Linked DNA regions of Homo sapiens. The protein of the gene in region 1 purifies or fractionates together with the protein of each later gene. This does not show direct contact. Each region holds a gene or a part of one and is shown in the gene's direction. Other genes may lie near its edges.

What was found.
Region 2: the proteins of GUK1 (region 1) and LACTB2 fractionate together in Homo sapiens (co-fractionation; one large-scale study listed by BioGRID). This does not show direct contact.
Region 3: the proteins of GUK1 (region 1) and TIGAR fractionate together in Homo sapiens (co-fractionation; one large-scale study listed by BioGRID). This does not show direct contact.
Region 4: the proteins of GUK1 (region 1) and MSRB3 fractionate together in Homo sapiens (co-fractionation; one large-scale study listed by BioGRID). This does not show direct contact.
Region 5: the proteins of GUK1 (region 1) and CLIC4 fractionate together in Homo sapiens (co-fractionation; one large-scale study listed by BioGRID). This does not show direct contact.

The regions. Positions count from the first base shown.
Region 1 is NC_000001.11:228,146,329-228,149,512, forward strand, and holds the end of GUK1 (guanylate kinase), read left to right. Parts: intron 1-513; coding exon 514-610; intron 611-1,077; coding exon 1,078-1,216; intron 1,217-1,286; coding exon 1,287-1,371; intron 1,372-2,042; coding exon 2,043-2,128; intron 2,129-2,336; coding exon 2,337-2,369; coding exon of another isoform or gene 2,370-2,524; 3' UTR 2,525-2,623; downstream 2,624-3,184. UniProt on the Homo sapiens protein: Catalyzes the phosphorylation of GMP to GDP. Essential enzyme for recycling GMP and indirectly, cyclic GMP (cGMP). Involved in the cGMP metabolism in photoreceptors. It may also have a role in the survival and growth progression of some tumors.
Region 2 is NC_000008.11:70,659,149-70,662,745, reverse strand, and holds part of LACTB2 (endoribonuclease LACTB2), read left to right. Parts: exon of another isoform or gene 1-848; coding exon 849-1,012; exon of another isoform or gene 1,013-2,601; intron 2,602-3,597.
Region 3 is NC_000012.12:4,327,708-4,331,304, forward strand, and holds part of TIGAR (fructose-2,6-bisphosphatase TIGAR), read left to right. Parts: intron 1-3,572; coding exon 3,573-3,597.
Region 4 is NC_000012.12:65,285,144-65,288,740, forward strand, and holds part of MSRB3 (methionine-R-sulfoxide reductase B3 isoform 2 precursor), read left to right. Parts: intron 1-3,597. UniProt on the Homo sapiens protein: Catalyzes the reduction of free and protein-bound methionine sulfoxide to methionine. Isoform 2 is essential for hearing.
Region 5 is NC_000001.11:24,800,901-24,804,497, forward strand, and holds part of CLIC4 (chloride intracellular channel protein 4), read left to right. Parts: intron 1-3,597. UniProt on the Homo sapiens protein: In the soluble state, catalyzes glutaredoxin-like thiol disulfide exchange reactions with reduced glutathione as electron donor. Can insert into membranes and form voltage-dependent multi-ion conductive channels.

The DNA.
Region 1 (3,184 bases):
CTGTCCCCAGCCCTGTCCTGGACTCGGCACTTATCAGCACTTTTGAGCTGTCTTCTGGAGTCCTGGTAAAAAGGGCTACTCTGCCTGCCTGATTCAAGACAAGGGACCCCCTTCCCAACAGCACCCCCGCCCCTTGCCGTGCAACCCAGTGGTCTCCAGTCACCCCACCACATCGTCCCCTCTGTAACCTGACGGTCTCCAGTTCCCCCACCACCTTCCCCCAGAACCTGTTGGTCTCCAGTCCCCACCCCATCACCACCAACTCCCAACTCCCCACTGGAACCCAGCAGTCTCGTATCTCCATCAGTGAGGACAGTGTGAGAAATGGTGTCTGGCTCAGGCACTTGGCAGCACTTGAGGGGTCCTCAGATGTCTCCTGCCCAGCAAGGATCTGACTAAAGCAGTCGTGGGTGTGGGAGGGGCCTGCAGGCATGCCTGGGTTGGGGGCAGCTGGCCCTGGGCACCCTGGTGCAGGTCCAGTCTGCCCTCTGGATGGCCCCTCCTCTTCCCCAGATTACTACTTTGTAACCAGGGAGGTGATGCAGCGTGACATAGCAGCCGGCGACTTCATCGAGCATGCCGAGTTCTCGGGGAACCTGTATGGCACGAGGTGGGCCATGCGTGGGTGTGGGTGGGCTCCCAGGGTTGCTGTTGGCAACAGGGATCCAGGTAGTGCCTGCTGCCTGCCCGCCATCCACACCACCCACCCCATGGTTATGAATGTGGCCAGGTTGTGGCCCAGGGCCAGGCTCCCACGTCTGTGGCCCACAGTGGCTCTTTTCATGAGGCTGCTGGGCCCGGTCCTGCCACCGTGCATTGTCCTGGCAGGGTGAAGGGTGCACAGGACACCTCATGCTCACTACAGGCACCTTGGGGAGTGGGTGGCCTCTGTTCCCTGTAGGCGGGGCAGGGCGTGGGGGTAGCAGGTTTGAGATGCTGTCGGGTGCTGGGTCCAGGCCAGGCCTAGGCTCAGCTGTGGGAGGAGAACGCTGGGCCCGGGAGGGCCTGGGTGTCCCTGAAGCTCCTGTAGGCCTCAGAGAGCCCTGGCACCCCTGCTGACCTGGCACCTCTCCCCAGCAAGGTGGCGGTGCAGGCCGTGCAGGCCATGAACCGCATCTGTGTGCTGGACGTGGACCTGCAGGGTGTGCGGAACATCAAGGCCACCGATCTGCGGCCCATCTACATCTCTGTGCAGCCGCCTTCACTGCACGTGCTGGTGTGTGCTGGGCAGGGTTGGGGGCTGGGGGCCAGGGCATGCCAGGCTCTGATTGCCACCCCCTTTTTAGGAGCAGCGGCTGCGGCAGCGCAACACTGAAACCGAGGAGAGCCTGGTGAAGCGGCTGGCTGCTGCCCAGGCCGACATGGAGAGCAGTGAGTGTGCCGTGGGATCACCAGGGAATGCCAGGAGGGGAGTCAGGGTTCTGAGGTCTGTGGCACCAGGGACCCTGTGGGTCCCCAGACCTCCTGACACCTGGAGTCCCTGTGAGGGTCCTCAGACCTCTCAACTACCTCCCAACACCTAGAGTCCCCGTGAGGGTCCCCAGAACCCACCCCCAGTCACCAAGGGTCTCATTGAGGGTCCTCAGATTTCCCTCTGTTACCCAGAGTCTCCGTGAGGGCCCCCAGACCCCCCATCGCCCAGGGTCCCATGAGATGTCCCCAACCTTCTAGCCCCGGGGGTGTCATGTGCATCCTCTTACAGCTGTTGCCTCTTCTCTGGGTCTGACTGCAGCCCACAAGAAGAGGGCATTTAATGTTCTGCTGTGTGTGTAGAGGATAGTGTAGCCCCTAACCAGAGTCCTGATGGGTGCTGGTGTCCAGACCCAAGTTCTGGGGCTCCAGAGAGAGCAGGAGTGGTGCCTGAGGACTGAGGCCCAGGGGGCGGCCCTTCCCTACCCTGCACAGGCCCGGCTGGGCTGGAAAGCTGTCCCACAGCCGCAGTGAGGACAGCCGCAGGCCAGTGGGCTGCTCTGGGGGTCGTGTGGGACCTGGGGTGGGGCTGCATGGGCTCACTGTGCCCTGACCCCAGGCCCCACCCACAGGCAAGGAGCCCGGCCTGTTTGATGTGGTCATCATTAACGACAGCCTGGACCAGGCCTACGCAGAGCTGAAGGAGGCGCTCTCTGAGGTGGGCCCATCCTTGTGCCTACCTGGGCAAGGCCCAAGGGGAGGCCTGGGGGCCAGGCCTTTGTTGTCCATGAGGCCACTGAGGTTAGATGGGACAGTCCTACCCAAGCACTGGCATGAGACACCGAGGTCCACGGTGGAGGGAGAGCAGGAAGCCCAGCCCTTCCTGGATACCAGCCCTCCCAACTCCCTTTCTTCCTCACTGGCAGGAAATCAAGAAAGCTCAAAGGACCGGCGCCTGAGGCTTGCTGTCTGTTCTCGGCACCCCGGGCCCATACAGGACCAGGGCAGCAGCATTGAGCCACCCCCTTGGCAGGCGATACGGCAGCTCTGTGCCCTTGGCCAGCATGTGGAGTGGAGGAGATGCTGCCCCTGTGGTTGGAACATCCTGGGGTGACCCCCGACCCAGCCTCGCTGGGCTGTCCCCTGTCCCTATCTCTCACTCTGGACCCAGGGCTGACATCCTAATAAAATAACTGTTGGATTAGAAACTCCATAAATGAGTGGAATGTGGCCCCAAGGTTGGTGGGGCCCCATCATCCCGATCGGGCCCTGAGCTCCGGCAGCCCACCCTAACCACCAGCCCCAAGGAGGGCCACAAGATGGCCTCTGCCTAGGCATCTGCTGCCTGCCGGCTCGTGGCTGCTGCCCCAGGGCAGCATGATGCTTGACTGGCAGGCAGGGAAGGTGGCAGGGCTGGTCCCAACCCACCTGGCAGGCTGGCAAGTGGGGAGCAGGAAGCGGCTGCATGGGGCAGCCTGAGGCTGCAGGGGTGGGCCCTGAGGGCTGCCTCTTGGTGCCCGACCCTGTGGGTCTGGCATGGGCCAGAGGTTCCAGGAGAGGCCCCTGAGCTCTGGCAGCTGGAGGTTCTAGATCTCGAGGTCTAAGGGGTTCCCTGAGGGAGATGCCCCTCCCCTAGCTGCCCCAGGGGCTGTGTGTGGTGTGTGAGGAGCCTCCTCTGCTCAGGCTGCCTCCCTCCTTCCCCAGTGCTCCCCCAGCTTGCCTGTCTAAGGCAGCACAGGGCCGTGCTGCCAGCCACCCCTAGGGTCAGCCCCAG
Region 2 (3,597 bases), on another chromosome or scaffold:
ACTGCACTCCAGCCTGGGTGACAGAGCAAGACCCTGTCTCAAAAAAAAAAGAATTGGATCTTGAGGAACATGTCACCCCCATGTCTTTAGTTCAGCAAAACTTCACAGAGAAAGGCCACCTCATAAAATCGTGAGGAAGGGCAAACAAAATATAAGGAAGATTCAGAACCACAAGCAAAAAATACAGCTAATGGGGTTGTCTAAGTAAAGAAAGAAAATAGCTCAGATGTTTTTCCCATGCTTCACTAAAGCCTTCATTTTCATGTGTCAGGGTGCTAATATAAAACTTCAGTGATAAGTTGTATATCTAGTGCCAAAGACTAGTTTCTTTAGGGGTGCCATTGAATCAAAATCTTTCATATCTATAAAACTTTTGAAATATACTGAGATATGAGATCTCAAAGGCAGATAGATAAAAGCACATATTCTGGCATCAGAATACCTGGGTTTGAAAGCTGTTTCTGCCATTTATCTGTAGAGTAACCTGGGCAAGTTACTTCTAAATATAATGATAAAATATCTACTTTAAACAGTTGTTACGAGGAATGTAATTGGTAAAATATGTAAAGTCCTTGGAATGGTGCCATGTTTATTTTAATTGCTATGTAAATGTTCAAGATGACTGCTATTATTCCTTGTTCAGACTTATATTTAGCTCTAATTTTTCTCAGAAAACTTTCTTAGGGTGAGATTACTGTAGTTAAGCTGAAGTGATGTAGCTGGTTTTTGTGCATGTTAAAAGTAAAATAATTTTTGCAGTTTCTTTAATGTAAATTATCTGTGTGCAAAATAATGCTAATGTCAACGCAGTGTTCCAATTGTGTGATTATCTTCCATTTAATTTTCAGGAGAATCCTCATTGACACTGGAGAACCAGCAATTCCAGAATACATCAGCTGTTTAAAGCAGGCTCTAACTGAATTTAACACAGCAATCCAGGAAATTGTAGTGACTCACTGGCACCGAGATCATTCTGGAGGCATAGGAGATATTTGTAAAAGCATCAATAATGGTAAACAGAAAACATTCATTAAGCTCATTGAGGAAAGCCGTGTTTGGAGAATAATTTATTTCAGTTACAGAGCTAAGTAGTCTATAAACCATTTACTAAATACCTCAGTTTTAAATGGTACTTTTAGAAATTGATTAGACTGTTGAATACTGTGCCTAGTTTTAACAAAGGAGGAACGGAAATCCTGATTTCTGTTTCAAATCCTCAATTTTACTTTAGTGTGTGAGTTACTATTCAGACTTAATCATAACTAACAACTGTTGAGCATTTACTCTGTGCCAGGCACTGCACTAAACAATTTATGTGGATACTGTGAGGTAGGTGCTCTTATTGTTCACATTCTAACAGATTATCTCAGTCCTTCTGTAACTTTAAGGCAGTTACTAAGATATGCTGAAATTCAGGCAATATATCATTGTATTGATAATTCATTGTCCCTGAAACCTATACAGTACTGACATTTTCTATCTCTTTATTTCCTCATCCCACCATCATATACCTAGATTCATTCATTCATTCATTAAATATTCCAGTTACTGTTATATGTCAGACAGTGTTCTTGGCACAAGGGGTATAGCAGTGAACAAAACAGACTCTGTTCTCATGGAGCTTTCATTCCAGTAGGGAAGGTACTGGTAAATAAATAATAGATCAGGCTGGGTGCAGTGGCTCATGCCTGTAATCCCAGCACTTTGGGAGGTCAAGGTGTGTGGATTGCTTGAGCTCAGGAGTTCAAGACCAGCTTGGGCAACATAGCAAGACCCTGTCTCTACAAAAAAAGTACAAAAATTTCCCGGGTATGGTGGCGTGCACCTGCAGTCCCAGCTACTCGGGAGGCTAAGGTGGGCAGATGGCTTGAGCCAGGGAAGCTGAGGCTGCAGTAAGCCAATATTGTGCCACTGCACTCCAGCCTGGGCACCAGAATGAAAAAAAAAGGGAAAAAAATAGATCAGATAATCATGGGTGCTATGCAGGAAAATAAAGGTACAAGAAGAGAAAGGGAAGAGAGCGTAAAGTGGAGAAGGGCAAGGGCTGTTATATCCAGAGTGGACAGAGAGAAGGAGCAAGCTCCTGGCAGGAAGGCCTGCAGGCAAACAGCATTGCAGGAGCAAAGATGGTGGAATGAGAGTGTGGTTGGCACATTCAGGGCACAGTAAGGAGGTCAAGAACATTCATGCTTATTTACATTGAGCTAGTATTTTTAAACATTTGTAAAGATCTGCTTTTTTAGGCCTTGTGACTACAATTGGGACATCTCAGCTACCACACCCAATATCACCAGGCTGCCAGTTATAAAAAACTGGCAACCAAGCTTCCTTACCCTCTTAGCTCCTTTCTTCCAATCTAAGGGGACTGTGTACCATAGGAACTTATAATCTGTCAGTCTGACTTTTCCTTCTCTTGTCTTACCTCTTTTAATTTTGTCTTACCTCTTCTTTTAATCTACCTATTAAATCTTGTGAATTAAAAAACTATTTTATGCCAGGGACGGTGGTGTGTGCTTATAATCCCATCCACTCAGGAGACTGAGGCAGGACGATAGTTTGAGCCCAGCAGTTCAAGACCAGCCTGAGCTACAAAGTGAAACCCTGTTTGCGGGAAAAAAAAAGAAAAAAAAAAAGAAACTACTCTGTGATTTCTTAATTAGCTTTGTCACCTCAGCCAACTCTTCAGATTTTTCAGTTTGAAAAATTAAAATGTTTATGGCCCACTTTTTTCCTTCATAAATCAATTTTATTGAGCTTTAATTTACATACATAAAATGTGCCCATTTTAAGTGAACAGTTTAGTGAGTTTTAACAAACATCAATACCTATGTGACCATTCCAGTCAAGATATGGAACACTTCCTCCATTCCAAAAAGAGGTCCCCTCATGCTGCTTTGCAGTGATTTCCCCCATCCCCAGCCTCCAACAACCACTCAAATAGGATATGTGTTTTCATTTATATTTGCACATAATTTTGAAGACAGATACAAAGTTATAGTATGACATTTATTTTGTAATTTTGATATAATTGTGATTTTTTAATTGTCTACTAAAGGTCTCATAAGCAGAAATGTAATGCCTCCATTTCTTTACTGAAAGATAAAATTATACAGCTTATAAACAAAACAAACAAAAAAACCTCAATATCTCAATCTTGTTATATAATGTCAATTCCCAGAAAAGCATATCATTGTTTTCCTTCGGCCTCTTAGATACAAAATAATAGAGTTTGGGGTTGGAAGGGGAGGTGGTATTTGTTGTTGTTTCTTTTTATTTCAGTGTTTCTGTCTCCTTTATCCTCAAACTAGCAAATTTCTGTGCCTTGTCCATTTTTCTTTGAAATATCTCTTTCTCCCTTCATATTTCCAGTGCTACCGTCTTAACCCTACTATTCATTACCTTCTAGCTGGGAAATTGTAGTCATTCCCCTCCTGGGCTCTCTGATCTCCTTTTGGTCTCCCTACCCACAGCCGCCATATTGATCATCAGTTAACACTATTTCATTATCTTACTAAAGAGTGTGCAGTGATTACACGTGGTAAAGTTTAAATTCTCCTATTTTGTAAAAGGCAATTTGAGACCCTTTCTGATCTGAGC
Region 3 (3,597 bases), on another chromosome or scaffold:
TTTTGTTTTGTTTTTGAGGGCGCAATCTCGGCTCACTGCAGCCTCCGCCTCCTGGGTTCAAGCGATTCTTCTGCCTCAGCCTCCCGAGTCGCTGGGACTACAGGCACACACCACCACGCCCAGCTAATTTTTGTATTTTTGGTAGAGACGGGGTTTCACCATATTGGCCAGGCTGGTCTCAAACTCCTGACCTCATGATCCGCCTGCTTCGGCCTCCCAAAGTGCTGGGATTACAGGCATGAGCCACCGCGCCCAGCCGAGGATGTTACTTATATTGAAATAACAGATATTTTATTCTTGGTCTCAGCAAGATTTTGAGGCTGAGACAGGAAGTGAATCCAATACATGGTAACTATTTTCTAGATTAAAAATGACAGGTTCCCCATGTTTGCCCTGAATGCTTCTGCTTTATCCATCTGAATGGTAGAGGCTAATATCCTCTTTCATGCCCATTTTATAAGATTCTGAATGAATTTTGGAGTGTAGGAAATCTTTTTTTTTGAGATGAGGTCTTGCTTTTGTCGCCCAGGCTGGAGTGCAATGGCATGATCTTGGCTCACTGCAACCTCCACCTCCTGGGTTCAAGTCATTCTCCTGCCTCAGCCTCCCGAATAGCTGGGATTACAGGTGCCTGCCACCACGCCTGGCTAATTTTTGTATTTTTAGTAGACACAGGATTCTACCATGTTGGCCAGGATGGTCTCGGACTCCTGACCTCAGGTGATCTGCCCTCCTTGGCCTCCCAAAGTGCTGGGATTACAGGCATGAGCCACTGCATGTGGCCTAGGTAATCTTTTATTAATATTAACAACAATGATAATGGCAAATCAGTGCTGTTGGTTTTTTACCAAGGTATAAATAGTTCCATGTATTTTTTTTTTTTTTTGGAGACAGAGTCTTGCTCTGTTGCCCAGGCTGAAGTGCAGTGGCATGATCTTGGCTCACTGCAACCTCCACCTCCCAGGTTCAAGCGATTCTTCTGCCTCAGCCTCCCGAGTAGCTGGGACTACAGGCACTCACCACCATGCCTGGCTGATTTTTGTATTTTTATCAGAGACGGAGTTTCACCTTGTTGGCCAGGCTGGTCCCGAACTCCTGACCTCGTGATCTGCCCACCTCGGCCTCCCAAAGTGCTGGGATTACAGGCGTGAGCCACCGTGCCTGGCCAGTTCTGTGTAATTTTATTTCTTTATCATACGTTTATTTTTTAAGCTAATACATCTACATATTTAGAAATCAAAACAATTCTCCGTAGTCTTCCTATTCTTCCCCCAACCAATAGGTGGCCACATTTATTAGTTTCATGTTTATCCTTCCATTGTTTCTTTGTGCAGATCCAGATGTTTATTTCCCTCCTTTCTAAAAGGGTAGCTTTCTTTTTATATTACTCTATACCCTGCTTTTTCTACTTAATCATATATCTTGGTGAGCATTCCATATCTTTACATATAATCTCTCTCTTTAAAGGACACATTTACATAGGATTCCATTAGGTAGATATGTCACTGTTTATTTGTTAATATAAATAATGGTTATTCTGGCCATAGTTAAGGAATGAGTTATGGACATTTGGGTTGTTTATAATCTGTTGCTATTAGAAATAATACTGTAGCTAATGATCTTTTTTTTTTTTTTTTTTTTTTTTTTGTGAGACAGGGTCTTGCTCTCTCACCCATACTGGAGTGCAGTGGTGTGATTGCAGCTCACTGCAACCTCTGCCTCCCGGGTTTAAACAATTCTTGTGCCTCAGTCTCCCGAGTAGCTGGGATTACAGACGCCCGCCACCACGCATGGCTAAATTTTGTATTTTTAGTAGAGATGGGGTTTCATCATCTTGGCCATGCTGGGCTTGAACTCCTGACATCGTGATCTACCCACCTCGGACTCCCAATGTGCTGGAATTACGGGCATGAGCCACCACGTCTGGCCACAAATAATCTTTTAAATATGAGTGAATTCAGTTATTCCCAGTAATTGGGTTATTGGATAAAAGGGTAAACAGATTTGTCATTTTGATAGGTATTTCCAGATGACCCTCCCTAGGTAAAAGCACATTCACTGAAGTTCTGTCATTTCCCAGCATTTTCTCCAGGCCCTGGGCATGTTGAGGGTATGCAATCCCTGCTTGTGCCTTTAAGGAACTGGAGCCAGGATAGACACAGAGCTAAAAAGTCAATTAGCACACAGATGAAAACTTATGTTGGTAGTGCCAGGGGACCATGGGAGTATAGAGTGTGGGTATTAAATAGAGTAGGTAGATGGGGAATGGTACTGGGGAGGGAGACTACCTAAAAGAACCAGTCTTGTGTTGGGTCTTAAAGAACATTCATATTGGCCAAATCCAGCAATCTGTATCTTGGCAGAGGTTGGCATACAGCTGTTTTTGTAAACAAGCGGCAAGATTCCAGGATGAGGCCTGAGTTTGTGATTCTGACTTCCAGGTCTGGTAGATTTTTTTTTCTAGATCTGAGTAAATCAGTCCTATGTGACATTTTAATTATTATAAACTAGTGCTTCACTTAAAAACAATGGAGCGATCATTTTCCATCGAAATCAAGGAAATGCAAATTAAAATTAAAGTGAGATGAATTGTTCAGGTACCAGATTGGTACAAATTGAAGAAACCTTCCATCACTGAATCTTGTTGAGGGTGGTACACCACACTACAGGGTGGTGTAACCTGCTATGACACTGGCATTACCTAATAAAGCTGGTATTTGCATACCTTATGGCCCAGCAATTCTAGTGGTAGGTTGGGTCAGCAAACATTTAATTAGTGCTCAAAGAAATTTCAGCTGAATTCTCTTTGATTCTACTTTTCATGTATTTGAAAGTTGCATTATTGTTAACCTATCCTGCTGTCTGTCCAGTCTTGCCCATGCACTTCCCGCCCTTTTCCCCCTCCAGCCTCAGTAACCCCAGTTATTTTCTGACAAAGTTTCCAGTTCTTTTACCCTTCCGGTTGGTTCAGATTGCTTTGATTTGTTTTGGTATTTTAGTTTTTAAAAGTGTAGTACTCAAACCTCAGTTCAGTGTGCAGTTAGTTGGTCTGCGAGATAGCTGTCAGTACTACAAAAAATAACTGCTGAAGACCTAGGAACTAAGAGAAGGCAGGGGGTTCTGAAGGTTTGTGCACGTCTCTCCCATTCCATTCAGATTCTCTTTCACTTGCTCATTCAGTCCAGCAATGAATAGACTGACTCTCACGTTTTTGTTCCTGCTGCCAGTAAGAGTAGTTTTGATCAATATATTTCTTTTAACAAAATTATTTGGCTGAAATGTTATTTGCATTATATTTTTTAGTAGGATTTTCCACCTGCAATTCACTTAAGATTGGTTCCTGATCTACACGTTTTAGTTTGGAGTAGTTTGAAATTCTTAGCTCTTCATTAAAGAAGACAATTGCAAATATTAGTTTAGAATAAATTGTTTTTACAGGTTGGATTATGAAGTGTGTTACAAGTTTCACATGATATTTTTAGAGTATCACCACACTTGATTGCTCATTTTTTTCCTCCTCTCAAAAACAGTATAATTTGGCTAATAAGGTTGTCCTTCTCTTTCTATTTTAGTGGAGAAACAAGATTTAACAAGGAG
Region 4 (3,597 bases), on another chromosome or scaffold:
CCATAAAATAATTATTGATAACTTCCTAATGTAAAATGAAAAATAATGATAAATCACATACTTCCCTCATTTTTACAGAATTCCTTGCTTGCCTTATCTCTTCAAGTGTTGACTGCAAGGTTCCTGTACACTTACTTGAGTTGGCCACTCCGGTCACTATACCCTGATCTCTGACACTTGGCCGTGGTAGCCTGGAGCAGCATTGTTACTGGGCATTGCTGTGATTGGGTTACCCAGCTGTGCTGATGTGGAAACCTCAGGGCTATTTATTGATACTTGGTTTCCTAAAGGAAAGTTGAGGGAATGTATTTTATGAGAGGGCTTTATTTACACGATTAAAGAGGTTTATAAAATGTGGAGATGAATATAGGTGAAACAGAGAAAGAATGCTGGTATAGGAGGTGTTTTCGGCTGGGTTTGGTGGCTCATACCCGTAATCCCAGCACTTTGGGAGGCTGAGGCGGGTGGATCACTTGAGTCCAGCCTGGGCGGCGTAGTGAGACCCATCTCTACAAAAACTACAAAAATTAGCTGGGCATTGTGTTGCATGCTTGTAGTCCTGGCTACTCAGGAGGCTGAGGTGAGAGGATTGCTTGAGCCCAGGAAGCAGAGGTTGCAGTGAGCCAAGATCGTGCCACTGCACTCCAGACTGGGCAATAGAGTGAGACCCTATCTCAGAAAACAAACAAAAATCCCCAAAAAACCAGGAAGTGTTTTCTTAGGGTCTAGTTCCCAGGCGAATGGTATATCCTGATTCTAGGTTTATAAAAATAGTATATTATTCATAACATTTGTCTAAAGTGACACATTTACATACAGTATATAGTATTGAGTAATTTCCAACTCTTTAAAAATAATGGAGACCCTTTCATGTAGTAGTAACTATGTTTTTAGTATCTGTTGACTGAGAAAATACGTAACAGCAAAAGCTACTATAAAACTTTGAAATAAGTTCTTGTAAATGTAAAAAAAATTCTCATATATTTGGAAAGTATACATGTGGAAATTATGACTTATAGAGTCTATGGACACTTGATTTCTTGCTTTATGGATACTCTCAGGAAGTTCTGGTCTCAACTTTGAGTATCTCATTGTCCTCTTACTTTAGAATGTGGGGTATGGGGGAAAACTTCTATTTGAAAATTTGAGCCATAGCGGAAATTTTGGAATGACAGGGAAACACCTTCTCAGAATCCTCTTACAATAAAATTTATATATGTTATGCCAGACAATGTACTTTATACTAAGACTGGACTTTTAAATAGTCTCATGGATTAGAAGTCAGATACAATAAATAAATACTTTTTAAAAATTATATTTTTAGGTATATGAGCATTGTTGTTGGGACTACAGTGCTATTTTAAAGTGAAATTTAGTTGATTTGCATGTGAGTATACACCTACAGGTCTCTGTTATAGCCGTGACATGTCTTCTGTTACTATAAATTACATAACAAATCCTTATGGTTTCTTGGGTCACTTATTTTATTTAAAGACAAAAACATCTTTCAGTACATATGTAAGACTTAAGGCATTATTGAAAATAAGCCTGTGCTACATGGTAGAATCTATTAAAAAAAAAAAAACACTCAGGCAAGGCACAGTAGTTCATGCCTGTAATCCCACCACTTTGGGAGGCAAGGAAGGAGGATCACTTGAGGCCAGGAGGTCGAGACCAGCCTGAGCAACATAGGAAGACCTAGCCTCTACTAAAAATTAAAAAAAGAAATTAGCAAGGTGTGCTGGCATGCACCTGTGGTCCCACCTCCTCTGGAGGCTGAGGTGGGAGAATCGCTTGAGCCCAGGAGTTCGAGGCTACAGTGAGCTATGATTGCACCACTGTACTCCATTCTGGGTGACAGAGCGAGACCCTTTCTCAAAAAAAAAAAAAAAAAAAAAAAAAGCAAAACCAAAAACCGAAAAACAACTCAGGACAGTCTTTGTATAAATTAGATAGCCCTAAATTTTATGTTTGTTCTTTCATTTCTCTTTTTTTTTTTTTTTTGGCTGCCGCCCAGGCTGGAGTGCCATGGCAGGATCATAGCACACTGCACACTGTAGCCTTGACCTCCTGGGCTCAAGTGATCCTCCCACCTCAGCCTCCTGAGTAGCTAGGACTACAGGCTTGTGTCATCATGCATGGCTAATTTTTTAAAAAAAATTTATGTAGAGATAGGGTCTCCCTATGTTTCCCAGGTAGGTCTTGAACTCCTGGACTTAAGCAGTCCTCCCACCTTGGCCTCTCAAAGTGCTGGGATTATAGGCATGAGCCTCCACGCCCAGTACATTTCTTTTGTTTTTATTGTGTTTGATTGTCAGAGAACCTGAGTTTGGTTGGGGTTGAGAGAGAACTATAGGGCCTATTATAGGTGAATACTTATTTTATCTTAGATTAGTGGTGTGTAGCTAAGGAAAGGTAAGGTCATATCTTCCTGTAACAGTCCAGATTAGATAGGGAAATGGGTGAAAAGCCACAAGTTGTTTTGCAACTCTGGTCTCACAGTAATTGAGAGCAAAAAGGAAAAAGTGCACTGTAGTCCCCCTTGTTTCTGATTTTGTGGGGTGTGAATATGCCTTCTAGTCAGATCGCCTTAGGGGGCCAGGAAGAGGAGGGTTGAGGGCAGAGCATGTTTACCTGCGTGCAGAGCCACTTGAAAAATTATAGGCTCATTTACATATTTGCATCCTTGTGTATGTGTTTGTGTTGCAGGGGAGTCAGTGTAGTATTATGAAAAGAACATTTGACAGTGAATTGGAAAACTAGGTTTTTCTAGTCTTGTTTTTGCCTGAGTCGTTTAAGCTTCTTGTGCCTCAGTTTTCATATCTGCAAAATGAATGAATTGGACTGGGTAATACCTGGTGTTGCTTTAAGATTCTGTAGGCTGGGCATGGTGGCTCTTGCCTGTAATCTCAGCACTTTGGGAGGCTGAGTCGGGCGGATCACGAGGTCAAGAGATTGAGACCATCCTGACCAGCATGGTGAAACCCCATCTCTACTAAAAATACCAAAATTAGCTGGGCGTGGTGGTGTGTGCCTGTAGTCCCAGCTACTCAGGAGGCTGAGGCAGGAGAATCACTTGAACCCGGGAGGCGGAGGTTCCAGTGAGCCAAGATCATGCCACAGCACTCCAGCCTGGCAAGAGAGCGAGACCCCGTCCCCCCCGCAAAAAAAAAAAAAAAAGATTCTGTAATTTAAGGATTATTTTAAAGTCTCCAACTTTCTGTAATTTTTAATGGAAAAATATAGTTAATACAGTATGCAAAATTATGTCTTTTTAAAAAATATTTTGTTCAAGTTGACTATCTTGTGCGATTCACTATAAGTGTTACACTGCATCTAAGATCTTATGTTTGAACTTCGTAGCCTAGTGTGCCCAGTAATTTGAGCTACTGGCAAAGTTACATAACCCTTTTAAAGATTTAGTATTTAAAGAATAGATTACAATGTATCAGAAGCATCATATTAAATATCCCATCTGAAGTAATGGTATTAAGGACTAGAAATTATGTCTTTCTAAATGTACAGCTGGGAATTGCTTATTTATGCTTGACAATAGATTTCAGATGAGAAAAGTCCTCATTTAGCAGGATATATTAC
Region 5 (3,597 bases), about 200 Mb from region 1:
CTCAAGTAATCAGGGACAAACACTGCGGAAGGCCGCAGGGTCCTCTGCCTAGGAAAACCAGAGACCTTTGTTCACTTGTTTATCTGCTGACCTTCCCTCCACTATTGTCCCATGACCCTGCCAAATCCCCCTCTGTGAGAAACACCCAAGAATTATCAATAAAAAAATAAATTAAAAAAAAAAAAAAGAATAGTTGTATTAATGGGAAAAACTAGGGTTTGGCAGTGGATTCCTCTTGATGCAAGTGTCACAACATGATTTGCTATTATACTGATTTTTAAAACTATTAGTCTGTTCTCACATTGCTATAAAGAACTACCTGAGACTGGGTAATTCATAAAGAAAAGAGGTTTAATTGACTGGCAGTTCTGCAGGTTGTACAGGAAACTTGTCTGGGGAGGCCTCAGGAGACTTACAAGTATGATAGAAGTCAAAGGGGAAGCAGACATGTCTTTCATGGCCGGAGAAGGAAGAAGAGAGAAGGGGGAGGTGTTACATATTTTTAAACAACCAGATCTTGTGAGAACTCACTCTCTGTCACAGGAACAGCAAGGGAAGTCTGCCCTTGTGATCCAGTCACCTCCCACAAGGCCCCTCTTCCACCATTGAAAATTACAATTTGATATGAGATTTGGGCAAGGACAGAAATTTAAACCATATTATATATCAAGTCATGAACAGTGTCCAGGAAAAGATATTGACAGCCTATCACTTGATAAAGTGGCAGAATTAATCTATGTTATCCCTCTGAGCATCACATGCTGATAGTTACCTGAGAGCTATAATTCCATTCCAAGTTCTAGGTTAGTGTACTCAGATTTCTGTCATTCCCTTAAAATACATTTTTACTTACTGCTAGTGCATATATTTGAAATTTTACAGACTTTAAAATTTATTGAACATAAGCCATAAAGTCATCAAGGAACCCCTTTAGTTATGTATATAAATGTAGAAATAAGCCTTTGGGAATAGTGAGTTAAAACTACAAGCTCTTGGGAAGACATTACCTTATTCATGTTGGGCAGAGATGTAAGAATGAAATAAGTCATGTAGTTACCCTTCTATTACTGTTTTTTTTTTATACATGTGTACACAAAGCAAGTTTCCCAATATAACTCCTAAAAATAGAGTGTGCCACCAGGCACACACCCTTACTGTGTCCTAAAATACATGAATTTCTCCTATTCCATTTTTGGCTTGGAGCAAGTGAGTTGACTGCCATTCTTTGAAAAAGCTGTCATTGAATAGTTTAATACAGTGCTTTAATTGTGATACATACCAGTAATAGTGCCATAAACATGGGAATCTGGGTCAGAAAAGGAAGTAAACCCATTATAGCTATTTCAGAGTTGTCTGTTTCTTTTCATTTGCAGATTTTTTAAAGGCATTATTCCTATAGGTTGATTGATATTTGCAGATTTGTATATATATGTTAAAGTGTGTATGTGGAAATATGTGTAAGTGTATATGTTAAGTGTTTATATATATAAAAAGTGGCGCATGGGAGGTAGGCATTCAGGGCCTTATAATTAGAAAATATCAAAGAAGATATATGTTTATTACCTAGGGCTTTATGTAAAATCAATGGTAGAGAGCACTTAAAATTGAAGCTTATATTTTTTGGTCTTTAACAATCATAGGTCTCCAGTAAATATAAAAAATGCTTCTTAGGGCAACTAAAACTAAGCAAGTAGTACGTGATAATGAGTCTGTACCATCCCTACCCCCTAGTCATCAACTTCCCCTTCAGAGAGATAATTTATTTTAGGTTTGGTCTTTATTCTTCCAAATCTTTTCCTTTTTTCTTTTTCTTTTTTTTTTTTTTTTGAGACACGGTCTGCCTCTGTCACCGAGGCTGGAGTGCAGTGGCACGATCACAGCTTACTCTGTAGCCTTGAGCTCCTGGGCTCAAGTAATCCTCCAGCCTCAGCCTCCCAAGTAGCTAGGACTACAGGCATTTACTGCCATACCTGGCTAATTTTTTATTTTTAAGAGACAGGGTCTCCCTGTGTTGCCCAGGCTGGTCTTGAACTCCTGGGCTCAAGCAGTCCTCTGGCCTTGGTCTCCCAAAGTGCTGGGATTACAGACTTTAGCCACTGTGCCTGGCCTCGTCCAAATCTTTTCTATGAGTTTACACACTTGCAGTCTTGAACAAAATTTTAAAGAGAAAGTACCTCAAGAAAGTGAGCATTGGTTCAAAAAACAAAAACAAACAACCCACCAGTATATATGAAAGTTATCACAGAGGAATAAAACATCCCTGTAGTACTTTTCATAATATATTCTTAATCTTAAAACATTAAATGTGACTCTTTTTAGAAATCTTGGGGGAGAAAATATGCCTACAGTGCTTATTTTCCTGCTTTTCCTGGTAATTGCCTAATATCTTGGTGAGAAGTACTGACTCCAGAACAAACCAGTGGAGAACAATAGAACTCCTCTGAGAGTTACTTAGCAGCTCACTCTATGATTTGAAAAAAATGATTGTTACATGACATTTCATCCATAAGAACAAGCCCATTTCTAGTTCTGGCACTGTATGACATGTTCTCTTTGAATCTCAGTTGGCATTAATGACTATGCTGGTAGTATTCATGTGTCCCTTGTGAGGCTGTGAACAATCTCCCATTACTTGCCTGCCAGAGCAGCCTTCGTGCTTTGGTGGGAGTCATTTCCAAATCTAATTTTCTGTTCATATTGCAATTTAAAGAACGTTTAGATAGAAAAAAAAGGGCCCAGGCTTCACAAAGAATTTCAATTTACATCAACGATTTGAACAAAAGCTTCAGATAATATAAGTGAAAATACTAAAATTGGGGCAGAGTTAAAGATGTTCTGGCATGTCATCAGTTGGGAAACAACCATGGCATAGTATAGAAAATTTCAGGAGTGAGACCTAGCTGTGTATGGAGAGAGCTCTATCACTGATTTCACTGGGACCTGGGGCGAGCTGCCTCATCTTCCTTGGAGTTAGTTACCTTATATTTAAAATCAGGAGAAAAGGGAAAAAAACTTCACTTTTGTAATAGTTTAAAATGTTACAATGGAACTATGAAACTGATAGTTCTGCATATCTTAAAAGGCAGTTAGAAACTCAGAAAAAAATCTGATTCCCAAATAGACTCTTCAGATAGTTTTATCTTCATGATCATGTCTCTGTGGTTCCACCTTTCTGAAAACAGTCTTCAGTAACTTAAGAAATCATTTCAACTTCCATGATCTTCAGTAGCAGCAGCATGAATGACACATGCCAAGAGACTAAATGGAATGAGATAAGCCTGTCTTTCAGAGACATCATCTATTTCCTGCTGCTGTCCAGACAGGAAAGTCAGACTCCATTTTTCCCCTTTGTAAAGTTGACTTGAGCTACATGAAGCACTTGTTAGAACAGTCCAATTCAAGATAATTGTGCTTTATGACTGCATTCAGAATCACATGTGTACCCACTGTGTGTGTGGGGGGTGTGTGTATGTGTGTGCATGTGTGTGGGTGGGTGGGTGGAGGGGGTGTGTGTGGGTAGGTGGGTGGTGGGGGTGTGTGTGTATGTGTGGGTGGGTGGGTGGTGGGGTGTGTGTAGGTGGGTTGGAGTGTGTGGGT